Linked DNA regions of Homo sapiens: region 2 is linked to region 1. The links come from fine-mapping of genetic effects on gene expression. Tissue or cell type: hippocampus. Region 1 holds a variant in brackets; the other region holds the start of a gene. All regions are shown on one strand. Distances are between the middles of the regions.

Region 1 (8,420 bases):
TCATAGGACCTAGAGGAAAACATCAAGTCATGTTCCTGGAATTTTGAGTTCCTGTCTCTACACCTGACTGTTGGCTCAAGTCACACAGGACCACAGCCTGATGAGGGTGTACCCTGGCCTGTGAGTACAACATCTGCATAAAATCAAGATCCTACACAATAGAACTCTCTGTAGGACTCTGGATAACCAAAGATAAGGCTCAGGTTCTTTCAGAACTCCAGCCCATTACAGTGACATACACTGTAGAACGAATTTCACTGTGAGGCTGCTACTAAGATCATAGGCTTCACAGGAGATCCCTCCCCTCAGGACCACCGATACCTACCACAGCCCACATTGCCCACCTGGCCTCCATAGTTACAGGAGTGCCTATTCCAGGCAGCAGGAACTCATTTAGGCTTTACCTTCTACTATTCTCATTTGCTGAAGGCTCAGGGTCAAAGTTGAGGATATTCTGAGAAAACAAGCTGAGAGTTAAAGCACAGTCCCATCCCTGAGTGGATCACTTTAGTCTCTCTCCATCTTGCACCTATGAGAAGACTTGGACAAGACTGCTCCTGCCTGGAGACATACCTCAAAGGAACCTGGGACTAGGGGTCTAGAAGGGCTCTGCTACAGCCACTGGACAGGTTTTGACTCAGTTCTAATTCCCTGAGAGGTTTTTATCCTTGTGGCAAAAGAGCATAAGATTGAAAGGATTCCCTATTTAATAAGTGGTGCGGGAAAACTGGCTAGCCACATGCAGAAAACAAACTGGACCACTTCCTTATACCTTATACAAAAATTAACTCAAGATGGATTAAAGACTTAAATGTAAAGCCCAAAACCACACAATCCCTAGAGGAAACCTAGGCAATACCTTCAGGACATAGGCATGGGCAAAGACTTCATGACTACAACACCAAAAGCAATGGCAACAAAAGCCAAAATTGACAAATAGGATGTAATCAAACTAAAGAGTTTCTGCACAGCCAAAGAAACTATCAGAGTGAACAGGCAACCTATAGAAGGGGAGAAAATTTTTGCAAGCTACCTATCTGACAAAAGTCTAATACTCAGAATCTATAAGGAACTTAAATTTACAACAAAAAAAAAACCATGAAAAAGTAGGCAAAGGATATGAACAGACACTTCTCAAAAGACACTTATGCAGCCAACAAACATGAACAAAAGATCATTGGTCATCAGAGAAATGCAAATCAAAACCACAATGAGATACCATCTCATGCCAGTTAGAATGACAATCATTCAAAAATGGGGGAGAGTCTACCCTGTGGTCCAAGCCATCTGGAACATGGGGGAATAGCATGTTGAACTCCTATTCAACTCAATCTATGGAAGTGATAGATATATAGACTACTCCTGCTATGTCCTTCATGAATTGTGGTGTTAAGATATCTACAGACCTAATTCTTAGTTTCCAGTTTAATTAGAAGAATGGAAGTCGATGATATAGTGGCCCTATTGAATACTCCTCCCAACCTGCTTAGAATAAGCACAACTTTAGTCCTACCATGCCATCTCACTTGCCAAGCACACCCAGTCACTGAAGATGAGATTCCATCTGGAGGGCTCTATAGGAAAGGCAGCAGTTCGACAGGAAACCTGTGCCAAGTGCTTCTACATGGAAAAGCAGGTCAGAGACTAGAAAGCAAATCCAGTCCAAATCACTAGATATGAAATGACTTGATTTGGGAAATCACTAGCTATGAATTCACTAGATTTGGGAAATGCAAATACGTGTGCTAGCCAAGACTGTTCCTCTTAAGTAGATAACCTGGGAAGCCCATTGACCTTCAGACCCATAAGATGTAAGTAGAAATTGGAGTCACGCCCACCCTGAGCTACAAAGTATCACAAAACAAGTAGTTGTGGCTGGGCTTACTGCTCTCAACAGAATTAGGTAAGGGAAGAAGAGTTACCAGCTCTGTGATTAGCTTTTACCATTCTCTAATATGATTCTTGCGCTCTTAAATTCTACTTGGTGAGGTCCCAGGGTCCCTGCTATGCTGAGTGACAGATGCCCATGTCACTGCCATCCTGCCAGCCAGTTCCTTCCACTTCTCCTTTCTGGATTTCCATGATACTTCCGTCTCCATATTTGGCACCACAAACATGCTGAGCTTCACAGAGTCTGGTGTGCACTGCCCTTCTCAGATGTGAAGAGGACCTGCTGCATGTGGCAACATGCTCAGCCACATACTCACCAAGTCACAGATTTGGCAACAACCAGAGTATGCTGGTACACAATCACACCCCCTTCTTGCCATCAGTGGGACAAGTTGTTCCAGCATGTATGATGAAAATAGTTGGTGCTTCATGCGATGCCCTTTTACTGAGTCAGGGCATTTACCACCCAGCAGCTAAGACTGCTGGCTGCTAATGGTTCCCAAGCCACTTCTTCTGGAGAACTGCCCTCAGCCTAGTAGAGACCTCTTCCCCAGCAGCCCACAGCCAGTACTGACTCTGGGAATAAGATGCTTACATCGATACCTCAACATGGCACTTGCACACTCAGAGCAACATGCTCTGTACCCTCAACATGCTTTTGTACCCTCAGAGCTCCACCATGGGCCCAGATGGAAGCTGAACTCCAACATACCATATGCCTGCTTAGCTCTCTCCTCTGCCCCTCCCCTAGAAAGTCTTATGCAGGCACCTTGACCTACAACAGCATGGCTGACTTCTAGTTCATGAAAGGACAGAGTGCAAGAAGCATCTCAGTGGCCCGTGGTAGGACAATTTTTACCTTCTTTAAAGAGGCACAAGTTAGCTTGAACAGTCAGAAGTCTGTTGTGACATAACAGACAAGAACCACAGTAAGCCATTTGACAGGCACTTGGATGTGTTAACATCAATATTACTTCTAATTCCGGAATGCAAGTTCCAATCTAACAAGGCAGATGAGGATTCTTCCACAATCATGTTTTATCTGTTCAGCTGAAAAGGGGATCCTAGGAGACAGGACAAGTTACCCTGTCAGTGCCTTGGTTCTCACAGGACCCATGTCAGGTCATTTTCCTGGAAGTAAGAGCCCAACTTCCATCTCTGACTTCCTGTCTCTACATGACTGTTGACTCAAGAGTCACACAGGACAGAGCCTGATGAGGGTCTGCCCTGGCCTGCAAGTACAGCAACTGCGCAAAATCCAGATCCTGCACACTACAACTCTCCATAGGACTCCATATAATGGAGGACAGGGCTCAGCCAAGGGTTCAGTTTGTGCTTGAAAGTTATGGGTGTCTGGAATGTTACCCTCACTTGGGTCATCTTTTGTACCCCCACCTGTGCCATCTATCACTTTGTAGTACCTGAGGCACACCAGTACCATGCTCTAGTTGTGGTTTCTATAGCTTAGATTTTCCCCTCATGCTCATAGCAATTTCCAGGGTCTTCAGCAATGTGACCTGGAAGAGAGGCCCATTCACCTAATACACTTAAAGCTCACCTCTCAGACACCTGTCTCAGTATTTAAAAGAGGGTGTCAGTCAGCGTACCAATAGCTTAACCACATGTTGAGCCCTTAATCCAAAGTCAGTCATCTGGATACAAGCTATCTACAACACCTAGGGGAAACTGAGGGAGTTGAACAGACTGAAGGATTTAGGATGTTCCTGAGAATAGTATACTTGGTAGTGAAACACTGGAGTCCCATGAAGAGGTGTTCTGCCCATTTCTGGCCCCTTTATAACATGCCATACCATGGTTTCCTCTAACTTCTAGGTACAAGCCAACATGTTGCAGCCCTTTATGGCCCTAGATAATTCTTATTACACTGGCATGGTGTATTCCCTCGTGTTGACTCCACCTGTGGAATTCTTTCATCTGTCCCATTAAAACACAAGTGTCTAGAAAGCCAGAGATAATTCTACCTTCTGAATCCAGGAGAAGCAATGCCCACTATGGTCTTATCTACGGTCTACA[T/C]AGAGTCCAAGAACTAGCATTACTGAATCAGAGAGGATGTCAACAGAGCCAGACTGGTTGGGGGCAAGGAGATGCCAGATATCCATCTTGCCACCAGGGGGTAGAGGGTATTTGGGAATTCTATCATCTTTCTCTGTACTGGTAGCATTTTCCAAGACCTGAGAAGTGTAGTGAGTGTTTTGCTTCTGTAAATTCAGTGGTGTCTGAAAGAACACTAGATCAATTCAGGTGAACTACATTCTAAACCTAGAATGACACCTCAGCTAAATTTCCCTGGCCAAGTAGTTTGCCTATAAATTCCTCATGCAGTAACATGCTGACTTTAGCCATCAAGGATGCAGAAAAATCATGAAGTGCTTTAAGAACTTTGACTCATATCAAGCATCATAACTGTTCTTTAACATTCTCCAACTTCTCTGGAAGAGCCATGGAAACAACAAGTTCTAGCGATAGTCCTGCCTATCCAAAGTCAACATTGGGACATTGATTGCAAAGACTGGCAAAACTTGTCTACCCAAGCCCCTATGCAAATTGAAGATGCCTGCAAGTGACCCTGTGGTTGCACATGAGCACATTCAGCTGCAGGCGAATGCAGGGAGGATGTCAGGCTGCCATGTGCTCTGTTCCCACAAGGACTTGGTCTCATGCTCACATTGTTTACTCTGCCGTGTTTTATCACGTGTCTTCCCCACATTGGGAAAAAAGTTAAACAAGCCTAAGAGGCCTAGCAAGGCTCCCATTTTAAAGCAAAGTTGTACACAGTAAGACACTGGAAGGTGAAAACATAGAAGATACAGCCATACATTTCTGCCTTCTGATTCCTTTCTATGTAAAAGTATGAACAAGGTGTTTTTCAAGGTAACATTTGCAGAACCTTGTCAACCCTCTACTCTTTGGCCCTCAATCCATGCTCCAAGGTGTTTGGCATTAACAGAAAAGCCAGTGTCAGCTCCTCTATTTTCACTCTGCTTTATACTTTAGCTTCTATTCCCACCCCCGCCACCCCTCACTGAGGTCCTCTGTCCTAAACAGCTTCCACTTTGAATCCCCAGCTTTGTGATCCATTTTCCTTTCAGCTTAACTCATTCCCCTTCCCAAAAACTGCCTCCCAACCCCACCCACACCTGCATGCCCCAAAAGTCTCTTTAGGACTCTGACTGTCAGTCACTACTACTCCAGAGAAGCGCATCTCAGAAGCTGGCCAACTGAGGCCCCAACTGACCCAAATTTCTCAGGAACTTCAATTTTTGCCATGTGACTCAGTGTTCCCACCTGGGCAAGATTGTGAACCTCAGTTCTCAAAGTGACTCAGGTCACAAAGATACCAAGTGGGATCTGGGTCTTGGAGGAGGTCATCCGTCATTATTACACAAGACCATTCAGAAGTAGCCTTGTAGAATGTTCAGACAGCCTCAGGAAGCCTGGCAGAAGCACTAGTTACTGGGTCAAAAAGGCTTCACACTTAGGATACCCTCATATAGGATGCAGTACATACATCAGGCAGGCTGTTCCATGGTACTGCAGGCCCAGCAGGAAAACTAATGGTTTGGGAACCAAGAAATAAAAAAAAAAAAAAGTGGGGGCCACTTATGCTTTTTTTAATCAATCCATGTGAACCACTGCGGGATTTTGAGAGTCACTCTTCAGGAGTAACTGACTGATCAGAGGGCTACTTTTATATTCTGAGAGGTAGTAAGAATGAATGGAACCCAGCTGATGCAACCGGGCATCCTTCAACTTCCTTGCCCCACTCCAACAGATACAGCCAAGCAGCACTATCTTGAAAACCTATGGTCTCTAGATCTTTATGCCCCTCAGGCTGAAGATCTGGGTCCTACCACCCGGAAAGCGTGAACCTTCAGCTGAGATCACAGCTGAGGCCAAAGGGAATTTGGCAGTGGATATTGGAGGAGAGAGGATGAGGATTCGTTGTGACCCAAGATCCCACTACAGCCACAGGAGCTGCATTTTGTCACAGCATCTTGAGTTTACTCAGGAAAGGAGGCCTGAGGGACATGGAGTTGCTGCTCTGAGAGCCTGTGTAGCCAGGTCCCTCTGTGCAGCACAGGGGCTGACTTGGCAGCCATTAAGGTGCAGCTGCAGTGCTCAATATGCCCATTCAGGACACATGTGACTCCAGTGGGGATTTGGGCTCTGGGACTTACCAGGATATTTGCTAAAACACTTAGACTGAGGTGCGATACTAAGCCACTTCCTATCTGACATTTCTTCTCTTTCCTCCCAAGTCAGACATGTGTGATCCTCTGATCTTCTCCCAGGTTCAATTCCTTATAGAACTTTCTCTTCAACCCCAAGATTCTTGAAGCTCTCAATCTACTTTAGCCTTTGCATCTCATGACACAATAGCATGTAGTTTTTAGATGCCAACTAAGACTCTAGGGTAAACTCAGCTCTATAGTAAGTTGAGATATAGTTTCTACAGCTCCGGAATAAAGCCCCATGTGAAAAGTAGCGTATACATGTCCATGACACTGTCACAAGTGCTCCATTCAGAGGGAGGATGACCATTCGTCTGAACGGAGATGACTAGGCCAGATCTTGAGTTACCTTCATACCTTGGGTGTTGACTTTCATGTTGACACGTTTGAGGTATATGGGTCATCCTTTCCAAGAGGGAACCCCCACCCCTCCCAACTGTCATGTTTCAGTTTGCCATGTTACTGTCTCATAAGTGCACCAGGAAAGTTATTTTCGATTCTCCTATCTGACTCCATTCTATATGCCATGTCTGCTACTAGCCCAGATGAACTTATGGCTGCCATGCACATAGCCATATACCAGAGGGCCTCAGTGCCCCAAGAGGCTCATTACTGAGTTTCTCGAGCATAAATGGTCAGGGGAACACTGACTAGGGAGGCCAAAATTCAAACTTGTTTTTACTGGAGGCTAGCTGGATCCTGGCAATTGTATCACCCATGCTAGCATGAGGGCTCGTGTTATAGACATGACACCCATCAGCTAGTTCATCCCTTTACAGTGTTTCCATTTAAAGCTTTGTTGTTTCAACTTTAGTCATTCCTGCACAGAAGTTCCAGAAGTGGTGGGGGCTACCTGACTTTAAAAGAATGTCTTGAGCAACAGAAGCTTAACATATCACCTTATCTTTATACGAGCGGCACATAAGGCTGCTGAATTAGAAGCAGGTCAGCCATAATTCAGCATGATGTCCATGTTACATGGGCTCTGGCACAGCCTTTCTAGTTCTCCTGAAGGCTTACTTCTCCCTTCCCTATTCTGAAGTATTTAATCTGATAAGCCTTAGACACTATTCAGTACTCCTAACTCCAAGCTTGTTAACTAGCAGGTTGGTTTTAACTTTGCAAGTGAGAGAAAACCCAGTTTATTCTAATATCCACATCCTTGGTTACACTCCATTGGGCTGCAAGTATTAGGATTCTTTTGATCACAAGTGATCCAGAATCCCACCAACTGCATTGGCCTAGTAACAAGGAAATTCATTAGCTCACGAACTGCAAAGTCTAAACACTGTTGGCTCCAAGTGAGACTGATTCAACAGGCTCAGGTGCACCAGGAGTAAGACTTCCTTTGTCTCTTCTACCCTCCATGGTATCAGATTAAACTCTCAACCCCACCACCCTCTGGATGGGAAGTTCTAGGCACTCCCTTCATGACAAATGCTTTGCACTAATCATTCAAGTTTTTTTCCCTTCCAAATGCTCTTCTGGAAACATCAGTTCTAGCAATATCTTCTAGGGTTTCAGCGGCATGCCCATCCCTGAACTAGTCACTGTAGTCAGGAGAGAAGGGTCGGGACATGGCATACCTTAAGCTGGAGTCAGATCTATGGGGAATGGTCGATTTCTCCCTAAGGATGTCAGAGTGTGTGTAGCTGCCAACGTGGGCATCAATATTGAAGTACCTGACAAGTGTCCTAGGTAAGGTGCTGACAGTGTACGATCAACTAGGCTATCTGAGTTTTGGTCAACCTACTCGCTAAGGAGTTCCCTCTTAACATTCAGGTCCTGCTTTGGCTTGTTATTGTCCCTTGAGACCTCACAACGTGGACTCCCTGATAAGAAAAATTTGGGGGACTACAAAATGTATCTAGCTACACAGCCTTGGGATGCCTAGTCAAAAAACAAAGATCCACTTTCTGATCTGAGCAACTCATGAAAGGGGTATATCACATAAGCAACAGCCTCTCAGGCAGCTAAGGAAACAGGTATCCTCAAGTACCTGAGATTATCTTTTTCGACACTCATACCAAAGAAGCAACCCTATTAACTTATCCTACAATATGTCCAGGAATAAGTGACTCCACTGAATTTCCAACAAGTTTTTTAGCCAGACAGAAGACCACTTGACCAGCCTTACCAAAGACTTGCTGAGTTGAAACCTACAACTCACGCAATTCAGGCATTTAAGTAGTCCAAGTTTCCCAGTGCTCGGTGCAACTGGGATCAGGAGTAATTTCAGGAGCCAATTTCCTTCAACCCCATGGGATCCAGACTAGC
Region 2 (6,210 bases), 300 kb after region 1:
TGAACAAAGTGAAAGGATTCAACAATTATCTGTGAAATGTGATCACATATTTTCTGTAGACTTTCTAACTTTATAGTCAATTCCTAATCACTCGTACATTAGGTTTCCAAAAGAAAAGTCTTCTGTCTTTAGATTGTAATTTAATTTTAATTCCAGTGACAACAGAGTGCGCAGAAAGAAGTCACTTCCTCTGTGCACGTATACTTAAAAAAAATCTCCTCTATTATCTGAAGAGGGAGGTCTAACATAAGAATTCTGTGGGATTAAGCTCACATATGGTTGGCCGACTTGGTGTTGGATGTGATTACGGCCACACAACTAAACCTTAAATCCACATACTGTTCCTATTTAACTGACATATATGAACTAATTTATAGAAAATGTGCAGCTAATTATTTCTTCCACCTCCTCCATCCCTCAAGAATGCACCAGCAATAATACGTGTTACTGAAAAAGCCAAACACCCCCACTGAATATTTGCAATCCTAAACGTTTGCCAATTTATCTAAAGCAGATATTGTTATTTTAGTTCTCTGAATCTATGCCTGCTAATAAGTATAATGGGGGGCAGGGGGAGGAGTAATTTAACCAGATAAATTTCACCTCTATAGACCTCAATTTTCTCACCAAAAATAAAACGACTAGCCCAGAGACTATGCAAATTCCCTCAGTAACAATAACCTACATGTGACCACTAATTATCAAGAGCACAATTTATGTGCAAAAGAAGACCAGAATTCTTAAAAGAGCCATGTCATTAAATCGTAGAGTTGAAAAGGCCTAAAAGACAGTCATGATTCGATATGACCGCTGTGTTTTCTGACTGCAGAAAACGTCTTTGAAAGCACCGCGGGCAGCCGAACCACCAAATCGAATTAGAATCCGCAAAGGGACCCATGAACTTCTCCCGAGGGGGTAGGGTGCAAAAGGCGCGCGTATCTGGGGAGGAGTTAGGCGGGGAGAGGGGGAAGAGCCGGGAGCCTGAGAGCACAGCCTTGCATTTCTGGGATTTCCGAGCTTCCAGTATCTCAGTAAGTCTTTCGTCTGTAACTACAAAATCTCCCGAGCCACCACCTGCAGCTGCACAGCTGTGGGAAAGGGAAGAAGAAAAAGGGAAGAGGAGGTGATAGACAGGGAAAGACATCGCCCGAGGCGCCCCCAAAGCCAGTAAGGCGAGTGGACTGTGAACATCGACGATGAAAAGGGGAAAGGGAAAACAGGAGGACTCCGCCTTTCCCACCCAGCTCCGCTCCTTTCAAAAAAAAGGAAAGGCCGCCGCCGCCCCTTCCTCCGCCTTTCACTTGGGGATGCGGAGCGGCCACTGAACCGCACCCTCGGAGTCCCGCTCCCCTCCGGCCCGGCCCCGGGGCGCGGACCGAGTCTTGCAACCCAGTAGGCGCGGCGCCTTGGCCCACACACTCGGGGCAAAGGTATCTCCTCCCTCCTACTCTCCTCCCTCCCGCCGTGGGGCACTCGATTCTTCACGCACCCGCCCGCCCTTCCTCTTCCTCGCGTCCCAGCCTCCTCAGCCCGCCGCCCCCGGCCTTTCAGCCGCAGAACATTTCAGTCCTTCCACCCACACCACAAGGGAGCCTCCAGAAAACTTTGTGTGTGTTATCTGGGGCTTTGTCCACATCCTGGGCAGGGCCCGCTCAGCCGGGTGGATGCCCGAGGGTGTCCGGGATCTCACAATGCGCTGGGGAGGCCACCACGGAAATCCCACCCCTCTGACCTGCTTCTACAGCAGTGCCACACGCAGCACTTCAGCTCGCAATTCCCATGCCCTGAGCGCCCCCTCGGCGCGGGGGAGACTGGAGGAAAGCCCCGAACCCGGCGCCCTTCTGGCTGTCACGAGGGAAGAGGTGCGCGGGCAGAGGGAGGCGGCTGAGACACGCCGCGCCTCAAAGAATTATTTTAAAGGGAACAGGAGAGGGGTCCTTTTTCTTTCGCATTCCCAGAAGAGGGGCGCGACGAGGCGATCCACTGTTGCATCACGTAACTGAGCCCCTGGGCTCCTAACCCCGACCCCAGACGCGCGCCCAAATTCGTGCACACACCCACAGCCGTCGCCGCCGCCGCGGGGCCGAGCACCCGCCCGGCTCCCCTGTGGTCCTCACCGCACCCGCCCCAGAGCAGAGACCACCCGGCGCCCGAGGAGCAGCAGGCGAGGCCCCAGCACTCACAGACGGTCTCCCCACGGCCACGGCCATCGCAGCTGCGGCACCGGCTCCGGCTGCGCCCGGGTGCTTTACGCCGACTCCGGCTGCTGCTAGTGCTCGGGCTCCGGCTCGCCTCCCTCGCGCCTCCCTCGCGGCTGCGCTCTGCTCGCCGGCGTCCCGCTGGCAGCCAGCGGCATCTGCTCCCCCCACGCCGCCGCCCCTCCCGCTTTATTAGAGCAACATGGCCACCCGCCTGGAAGGGACCATTCGCTTCCCCAGGAAGGGGTGTGAGCCTGCGCGCCCGGCCGCGGTGGTGGGCGGGAGGATGGTGGGCGGGCTCCGAGCCCAGCTCCACTGGCCCCGGCCGCGGGGCTCGCCCCTCCGTCCCCAAACGACCGTCTCCGCTGCCATGAGATGCCGACAGCCTGTGCGCTGGCCGCCACCCCCTGCTCCATCAGGTGCTGGAATCTGAGTAAAAGCCTGGGCGCGAGCTCCCAGCCCCGGGGCCTGCCACCGGCTCCACGAAGCGGGCAGCTCCAGCGGCCGCCGGGAGAAGGAAGGGCGACCGGGGGAGACGGGTCGCAGGGACAGCACGTGGCGGAAAGTTAGCCCCGGACTAGCACGCCCCACCCGGAGAAGCCGGCCTGGAAGGGGCTGCGGACCACCAGGCGGAGCGGTGGGCGACCGAAGTGCGGCTGGGCTGGCCTCCTCGTCTCCGCACTGGAAGAATTGCCCTTCCGCAAGTCTTCCCTTCCCACATGGGGGCCCTCCAGGCCGCACCTCGGTCGCCCACCGCTTCCCTTGAGAAGGGAGACTAAAGACAGGCATCTGGAAGCTGTCACTGTGGCGCGCGGGCAGACAGGGGATCCCATTGGAGAGGAAGAGCCGTAGTAGTCGCTGCTGCCTTCGGCCGACCCAACGGCCGCCTGCTTGGGAGGAAGAAAAAGAACGCCCCCGCTGAAGAATTAAGGCAGCCATTGGTTGCTCTAGGGGTAAGGACCGAGGCCTCCCCTGGGTGTCACTGGAGCAGCCACACGTGGGGGATCAGCCGACTTCATTCGATCGCTGGCGACAGACCCGGCGACCCGTAGGAATGCGCGCTGGGGCTGCGGCTGGAGGGCGTGGCGACGGCAACAGGCGGGTGGCTCGAGTGGGTGCGACTCTGGGCGCGTGGGACTGAGAACTCCTCCGCCGTGGGGAAGATTTTTTTCCCAGCAGATGTTGGGGTGTTACTGCGTGTCTGAGGGGCCGGCGGAATGGAGGGGTCCCGGTGCGTGCAGGGCAGCGAGGTGTGTCAGATGAGCTGTGGATCCCTGCGGCCCCACGTGGGCCGGAGAGGGGGGCCCACGACAACAAGCGATTGAGGACAGCGATGGACAGGGCGGGGAACCAGCTGGGTGGAAGCACAGGGAGTGTGGTGAGGAGGGAAGGGCTGTGATCTGCCCTCGGTACGACGCCCCAAGGGACAGCCTGGCCTCCTGAATTAGGGAAAAGACAACCGGTCTCTTTAGACGGGCGCCTCAGAGTCTGACCTGAGTCTTCAAACGCCCAGATCCCCTGGGGCCTTGAGTCTCCCTGTCCCGCTGGCCCTGCCTCGCCTGCGCTTCAGGACTCCGACGCCCCCGCAGCCTTGGGCTAAGGGTCAGTCGTCCCCGGGCGCGGGTCCGGCTGCCCTGGAACTGATGCTGGATTTCGCTGGTAGGTGGGCTAGGGGCTTGGTCACCCCGTCTGAATTCCACTGTCAGGACAGCTGTGGAACCGCCAGAGAAAAGTCTGGCCATGAAAGAAAGGTGAGGGGCGCCGACGCAGAGCTTATTTATTCAGTCTGTGGGCGGACTCAGACGTGCAGAGCACCAACCTCTTCAATTTCTGCCCTCTAGACTCCAAATCTTTTGAAATTAGGGACCACCATTTTATGCCAAACATACAGTAGGCGCTCAATAAGTGTTGAATTAAGATTACACATAAATGGGCCGGGCGCGGTGGCTCACGCCTGTAATCCCAGCACCTTGGGAGGCTGAGGTGGGCCAACATGGTGAAACCTTGGCTCTAAAAAAATGCAAAAATTAGCCAGGCATGGTGGCGCTTGCCTGTAGTCCCAGCTACTATAGAGGCTGAGGTGGGAGAGTCGCTTGAACTCTGGAGGCGGAGGTTGCAGTGAGCCGAGATCGCGCCACTACACTCCAGTCTGGGTGACGCAGTGAGACCCTGTCTCAAAAAATATATAATAATAAGATTACACACAGATGGGTGCTGTGCAAAGGGAGGGGGAAGACAAATACTTTCTTCTGCAGCTCTGGTACATGGACATTTTGTCCTTTCTCCATAAGGAGGATCAGACAGCAGCAGCACTGCCCATGGACCAGAGGCCTCATGTAAGGCCTGGGAAAAGAGGGCTCCACACACCACCAACCGGATGTAAGGGCAGTTGCAAAGGAACTGTGTTATCTTGACCAGAACAGACTGTAGAATTTGTTTATCAAATTTTTTTTTTTTACTTATTTATTTTGTGAATGTATATGCTGTAAACTCATCTGCTTAGATTGTAAGAATGTGAATGCCCTACCTTGGTGGGTAGGTTAGTTTATTCTAATCAGCAAAACTTAACGTTACATATTCCAACATCTCATTTGGGATGTGAAGATGCTATGGGGAGGGTGGGTATCCTGGCATTGCTAGAATGTTGGAGCCTTAGCGAGAGAGTGGCAGAGTGGGGAGAACCTGGCACTTCAGCTACAGATGATCACTTATGAGCTTTGTTATATCAAATAAGTTAAACTTTCATCTCATTTTTTTTTTTTCTATTGTAAAATAGGGTAGTAACAGTGAGTCCTGGGGGAGGACGTGTTCTGTTAGCCAGATCCACTCTCCAACCTGCTGTCTGTCCTTTGGAGCCTTAACTCAAGAGACTTTCTTTCCCTCTAGCTTCCAGTTGAGTGAAGGCACTAGGAAGCAACAGCGATGGAACAAAGAGGAAGGAGTATGGTTATTTATTCCCCCCTGGCTCCCTTACTATGGCACCATTGCAGGCTGGTTGCCTCCCTCAACCAAAGGAAGCAGCCAGTATCCCTCCCTAGGGTGACCCAGAGTAAACCCCTATGGTTTCCCTTCATTTTGCACATACCTTTGCAGATAGTCTTTTTATAAAACTCTACTCACATTATCCAGTAGGAATGAACATCTCATTCCTTCACAGAATTGTTTTGAGAGTTAACTGAGAAAATACTGTATTATTATTATTAGAATGACCTATAATTTCTGTCCAAACTGAGAAACTTTTGAGGCTGGGAAAAGGGGGTTTGTGCTGATAGTAATGATGTCAGGACAATAGGAAAAACAAGGACTTATGGCCACCCCAGCTATTATTGCCAGTAAACTCTGCTTTAGACATATTAAGCAATCAAGAAGTGGTCGTACTATCACGCTTCTGTCACTAGACTATGAATGTCTCAAGGTAAGAGTGCTTTTTTGTCTATTAGCTTCTGTCACATGGTCTGGTATATTCAATAAATTTTGAGTTGGAGATGAGGGTAAAGACTAGGAAATGAATAATTTTTATTGCCATACTAAGGTAATGAAGAGTCAAGGAGGTCTTTAAGCAAAGAAAATTTGCATTTTAGAAAACAGCTATAGTGAATATTTGGCATTGTTAGTAATTTAGGGTCTATTCCCTTTTTAATTGAACCCCAATTTATTTGGAGAGCTTTTCCAATGAATGTTTCAACTTGGTAAAAAGTAAATGCCTCTTAAAAAAGAGGTTCTGGGCCAGGCGTACTGGTTCATGCCTTGTAATCCCAGCACTTTGGGAGGCCAAGGCGGGCAGATCACCTGAGGTCAAGAGTTCGAGACCAGCCTGGCCAACATGGCGAAACCCCACCTCTACTAAAAATACAAAAATTAGTGGGATGTGCTGGTGCATGCCTGTAATCCCAACTACTCGGGAGGCTGAGGCAGGAGAATAGCTTGAACTCACAAGGTGGAGGTTGCAGTGAGCCGAGATCGCACCAGTACACTTCAGCCTGGCTGACACAGCCAGACTCCATCTCAAAAC

Evidence for each region. PIP is the estimated chance that this variant, and not a neighbour inherited with it, causes the effect.
Region 2: it holds the start of SEPTIN11, and the variant in region 1 is fine-mapped to the expression of SEPTIN11 in hippocampus (GTEx, PIP 0.94).

What each region holds. Positions count from the first base shown.
Region 1 is chr4:77,245,126-77,253,545 of GRCh38, reverse strand. No RefSeq gene overlaps it. Among named protein-coding and RNA genes, the nearest start is that of CCNG2, 92 kb to the right of the region's middle. The variant T/C (reference allele first, on the strand shown) is at 3,925.
Region 2 is chr4:76,945,904-76,952,113 of GRCh38, reverse strand. It overlaps SEPTIN11 (septin 11), which reads right to left and starts at 2,362. Exons shown (of 10, transcript NM_018243.4): 1 at 2,184-2,362. The coding sequence starts at 2,210. LOC105377294 (a long non-coding RNA gene) reads left to right here and starts at 2,549. Exons shown (of 3, transcript XR_001741739.2): 1 at 2,549-3,151. RefSeq lists silencers at 2,068-2,377, 2,408-2,587 and an enhancer at 3,498-3,577.